Regions from separate parts of the Homo sapiens genome. Here region 2 is linked to region 1. The links come from fine-mapping of genetic effects on gene expression. Tissue or cell type: neutrophils. Region 1 holds a variant in brackets; the other region holds the start of a gene. All regions are shown on one strand. Distances are from middle to middle.

Region 1 (2,685 bases):
AAGCAGGAGACATCATGAGGGGAGGCCGCTACTGCTCCTGAGCACTAGCTCATATGCTTGGTTCAGAAGTGAGAATAGGCCGGGTGTGGTGGCTCATGCCTGTAATTCCAGCACTTTGGGAGGCTGAGGCGGGTGGATCACTTGAGGCCAGGAGTTCGAGACCAGCCTGGCCAACATGGTGAAACCCCCGTCTCTACTAAAAATACAAAAATTAGCTGGCCATGGTGGCACATACCTGTAATCCCAGCTACTTAGGAGGCAGAGGCAGGAGAATCACTTGAACCCAGGAGACAGAGGCTGCAGTGAGCTGAGATCACGCCACTGCACTCCAGCCTGGGTAACACAGTGAGATTCTCTCAAGAAAAGAAAAAAAAAAAAAAAAAAAAAAAAAAAAGAAGTGAGAATATAGAATTGAAGACTATGATCCTCTGCAATCTGGCCTCAACCCATCTCTCCAGCTGTTTCCCATCTTCCCAAACTCTTGACCTCAGGTATACGCATCTTTACATAGTCTCCTTGCAAAAGACACTGTTGATCAGCTACCTCAGAGCCATTCTAAATATTCTTCTTCCTTGCTGCTCCTCACTATAGAGGCTACAAAACCCAACACACACTCTCTCTTGCAGCTATGGATGGCCCTGTATGTTAGTTTTGGCCCATGAGATAAAAGTAGAACTCTGATGGGGAAACTTTTGGGAAAGCTTCTGTTTCTTCATAAAATGGGACAGATGCAACTGATACAGCCTGTCCTCATCTCCCTAATTTCCTGCCTTAAACATGGATGAGATGGCAGGAGCTGCATCAGCCATCTTGCAGCCCTGAGGGAGAGAGAAAGGCAAGTGCAGAGACATCAGCATTGAGTACTGAACCTGTCTCTGGATTTCTTGCTATGTGGGAAAAGAAAACCTTCTTGGCTTAAGCTACTGTTGGTTTTCTGTTACAGTTTCATGCATTCTTAAATGATAGATCCCTGAGCTAGGTGCTGGGCATACAATGGAGAACAAAGCAGGTATGGGGCTCCTCCTTATCAAACTTACAGTCTTGTGTGAGAGA[CA/C]AAAAAAAAAAAAAAAAAAAAAAAGAGGAAATGAATAAGTTAAAAAATTACATTCCATGATGTCCAGCACTGGGCTCTGATCACTCCGGAGGACACAGTTTTCCCCAAGACCATGGCTACCTGGGGATCTGAGAGAAAAAGGAAAATAATTATACAGTGGTTTGTATTATGAAAAAAGCAAAAATATAATGGTATGATGGAGAACTATAGGGGAGGCTGACTCTATTTTAGCTAGAGGGGCCATTGAAGGCCTCTTTGAAGAGGAGGTAGTTAGGATCTGTAGGATGAGAAAACCTGGCCATTTGAAAAGGAAGTGAAAAGGGTTTTAGGCAGACAAAACAGCTAGTGCAAGGGCTCTAGGGCAAAAAAGGGCTGTGTGTGTTCAAAGTCCACTGTGGCAGAAGGGTATTAAGGGAGAGATTGGAAAGAAAGAAGTAGTCAGAAGGGGCCAAATCACACAACGCCTTGCAGGTCATAAAATGGAGTTTGAATTTTAGTCTAAGTGCAAAATAAGAATTTTAAAGCAAAGATCCATTTGGAAGTTGTGTAGAAAATGTGTCCAAGGGGGCAGGAGCAGAAATGTGGAGACCAATTAGAAGGCTGTTGCAGGACTTCAGGCAAGAATGATGGTGATACATCCTAAGATGGTACCAGCAGAGATGGCTTCAAGATGATTTAGGACTTGGGTCAGTAGCACTTACTGATGTAGTGGTTTGATACACACTGATTACCTTCTTCCTTTTTTATTCTCTGGCATTTCTCCTATATAACTAGCCACTTTTAAACAATATTTGTCGGCTCTTTTCTTCTGCTTGTCTGTAAATATTAGGGTTCCTGAGTCCTTACCTAGATTTTCTTCTCTTCTTACTCCTGGCCTTTCCTTGGGAGAGTTCATAATTCACCTACTCCATCTAGATATTTGTGATGTCCAAACACATCTCCACGTTAGGCTTCTATTTGTAGCATCAGACCCACACTTTCAACTGTCCACTAGATAGCCTCACTTGGATGCTCTGCAGGCCTAAATAACCTTTGCGGACAGATTAACAGGGAAAAAATATTAATAGGAAAAAATATAGATTTTTATCTGATGTTAATATTTCTATGTGGCATGGAGGACTTCACAGAAAAAAGTGAAAACTCTAAAGCAGTTAGATTTGAGAATTATATACCATTTTAACAAAGAACAATACATTGTGGAGACATGACAAAGGAAAAAGGGGTTTGGGCTGGAAGGGGGATGGGAAAGTGACTAGGAAACATATCGGGGAAACTGATGGAAGAGAAGGGCAATTTTAATAAGGTTTGTACAGACTCATCTTGGCATTGACTCCCCATCCCTGGTGATAAGCATGTTCTCCTCTTCCTAGTAGAATGAGAGCACCTTTCTCAGGGGAAATTTACATACTGCTTTTAGGTAGAAAAGGGGAGGGCAGACAGCACTTCCTGTATCTGCCATTTCTCCATTGCCTTCAGCTCAAAATAACCAATTTGCCACAGTGGCATAGTTTGGAGCAATGCTCTGCTCCTCTTCAAACCTTTTCCTTATCTCATTCACCAGTCAGCCACCAAGTCCTGTTAACCTCTTCTCTTGCTCCAAACTGTCTACTTCTCTCCATCCCCACTGCCAT
Region 2 (2,685 bases), 28 kb after region 1:
GTTCAGATTAGAGTCTAATTGAGGGCTTTCGTGATATGAAGATCATTGTACTAGGTATCAGAACTTGGCCCCCAGGCAATACAGTCCTTTCACAAATGAGGCATCGTATTGGGAGCTCTGTATACAGCTGCACTGTTTAAACTACCTGTCCACCAGGAGATTATAATCTAGCAGCACTCTCCTTGTTTTCAGGGGTGCAGTCCAGTTAGCCCATGTTAGCACTGATATAAATTTGGGGGAAGACAGCAATTATGCTCTTCTCACTCATTCTGTATTCTAGGTACCCAACTCCAGAGGATCTAACTGGCCAAAAGCAATGGTACAGCTCTGGGCCTTTGTGCATGCTCTTCTCTGTTGTGTGCACTCCTACACATCCCTGAGGCCCCAGCTCAGGACACTCCACTGAGGTCCCCATCATAGCCCCCTGGCAGAATTGACTGCCTCTGTGCTCCCTGCGTAGCGCATTTATATCTATTCTGCACAGATCTTGTTCTTTTACACAGTAGTCCCCCTTATCTATAGTAGATACCTTCCAAGCCCCCCAGTGGATACCTGAAACGGTGGACAAAACTGAACCCTGTATCTACTACGTTTTTTCCTATACATACATACCTATGATATAGTTTAACTTTATCAATTAGGCACAGTAAGAGATGAACAACAATAATAAAATAACAGCAATTATAACAATATGCCAGCATTGCTAAGCTTGCACTTTGGGGCCATTACTAAGTAAAATAAGGGTTACTTCAATACCGCCACGGTCGATCCGATCACCAAGCTAGCTACTAAGTGACTAAGGGCGGCTACTAGAGATAGGAGGCTGACCTTGGACAAAGGGGCATTCCGGTCCCAGGAATCAAGATTTCATCCTGCTACGCAGAATGGCCGGAAACTTAAAACTTAGGACTTCTGTATTTCTGGAATTTTCCATTTAATAGTTATGGACAAGAGCTGACCACAGGTAACTGAAATCGCGGATAAAGGGGGCTACTATCCGCAGTTCTCTAGTACTTGGGAGTTTCTTGCGACACTCATTTCTGCAACCGAGTGTCTCTCAACAAATCAAACTGTTCGGAATGTTTGGAATATTTTAAACGAAAGAATGCATTCAACAGGCAGTGCCCAACTCCCCAAGTTGGGATTCTCTCCTTGGATCAGTCTCTCCTGTTTACCCCCCTCCTCTCACCACCGGCTGCAGGGGGACCTCTCACTCCTTTCCTTCCCAGTCCAAATGCTGGGCGGTGGAGAGCCGCACTCGCGACAGACACCAGAACGCACCTTCGATAGCACATTCCTGCCCCACCTGCCCCTCAGCACCCGCTGCAGCCCCGACGAGGGTGGGGGTGGGAGGCAGCAATCCTTCAGGTCCTCGGCAGCCCTGCGGGCCTACCTTGTCCCCTTTGCTTAGGACCTGCCAAGGCCACGTCTCTACGCTTCCGAACAGCGAGTTCTTGATCATGCCCAACATGTTGTAGCCGAGACGCTCCCGACGCACGGGAGGACGTGAGGTGGCGGGGGCGACGGAGCACCACGGGCAGCGACCACCGGCGGCAGGGCGGCAGGGCGGCAGGGCGGCAGGGCGGCAGGGTGGCAGGGCGGCAAGGCGGCGGGACGGCGAGGCGGCGAGGCGAGAGGCGGGGCTAGAGGCAGGGGCCAGAGGGCGTGGCTAGAGGGCGGGGCGGCAATTCAGCCCGGCGGTGAGGCAAGGGGGCGGGACGGCGAGGTGAAGGGGCGGAGAGAGAGGGCGGGGCGGCGAGGCGAGGGGGCGGAGAGAGGGCGGGTCAGTGATGCGAAGGGCGGGCAGCAGGGCAGCAGTGCAGCAGTGCAGCAGTGCGGTGAGGCGAGGGTGCGAGGCGGCTAAGCAAGGGATGGGCCCGCCGTGGCGAGCCGCTGGGCCGTGTTCCGCCTCCTTTCGGGCTTTCCGCGGGTGTCTGGGGAGGGAACCCGGCCGCGGGCCTCAGGCCGTCCCCCTCCGCAGACCCCTTCTCTTATTCTGAGTCTAACCTATCCGCTGGGGCCCTGGAAAGCGATTCTCGCCTGGAGTGGCTTTAGGCAGCGGTGGTGGGGAACGTCCTCTCTCAGGTGCCTGGGCTCCAACCTCCGAGCCCCGGGTTGCTCACGCTTCTCCGGTCCTCTACCCGAAGGCTCGATCCCGCTGGTACAGCGGCGGCCAGGCTCCCTGTCTTGGTAGCTGTCCCTCTACCCCCGCCCCATGACCTCTTCTAGACCATTGAAAGAGCATCCAAACCACTTTCCTGCTGCCACTCTTTCCTACCATCCCTCTAAATCACAGTTTCCAGGTGACTTTTCTAAGCATGGCTTTTCTCGTTCACTCCTGTTCAAAAATCTTCTCACCAATTTTGTCACCATTTACTCAGCTGAGTGCCTGCTTTCTGTCAAGTATTTTACCAATAAATCTCTACTCCACACCACCGACAAGAAATATTTTGGAGCCATTTAAAAAGGAGGAAACGGAAGCTTCTGCCGCTGCCTGATCCTCCATTGCTCCGAGCCGCGCGGGTGCAGCGGGCTGTGGAGCCGCGGGCCGAGCCCCGCCGGAGCGCCCGAGAGCCCGCGCGTCCCGGGCGTCCGTCGGGGTCCGAGGTCCCTCCCTCAGGGAGTCCCCGCTCGGCAGCGCTCTCGCGTTTCACGCAGCGGCCGGGGATCTGGGACAGGCGGGGC

Direction of the effects. Positions count from the first base shown, and alleles are read on the strand shown. Sizes are in standard deviations (SD) of each study's normalised expression.
For the expression in neutrophils of the gene that starts at base 1,622 in region 2, CA is the low allele of the variant in region 1 and C is the other (moderate effect, 0.57 SD a copy in CEDAR).

The links. PIP is the estimated chance that this variant, and not a neighbour inherited with it, causes the effect.
Region 2: it holds the start of HEBP1, and the variant in region 1 is fine-mapped to the expression of HEBP1 in neutrophils (CEDAR, PIP 0.95).

The regions. Positions count from the first base shown.
Region 1 is chr12:12,970,951-12,973,635 of GRCh38, forward strand. The region is part of intron 1 of GPRC5D-AS1 (GPRC5D and HEBP1 antisense RNA 1); the gene reads left to right. LOC124903100 (small nucleolar RNA SNORD88) reads left to right here and starts at 1,103; the gene lies at 1,103-1,193. The variant CA/C (reference allele first, on the strand shown) is at 1,054.
Region 2 is chr12:12,998,644-13,001,328 of GRCh38, forward strand. HEBP1 (heme binding protein 1) reads right to left here and starts at 1,622. Exons shown (of 4, transcript NM_015987.5): 1 at 1,394-1,622. The coding sequence starts at 1,471. All of the region lies in intron 2 of GPRC5D-AS1 (GPRC5D and HEBP1 antisense RNA 1), which reads left to right. It also overlaps the pseudogene HTR7P1. RefSeq lists silencers at 1,487-1,636, 1,687-1,806, 2,567-2,685.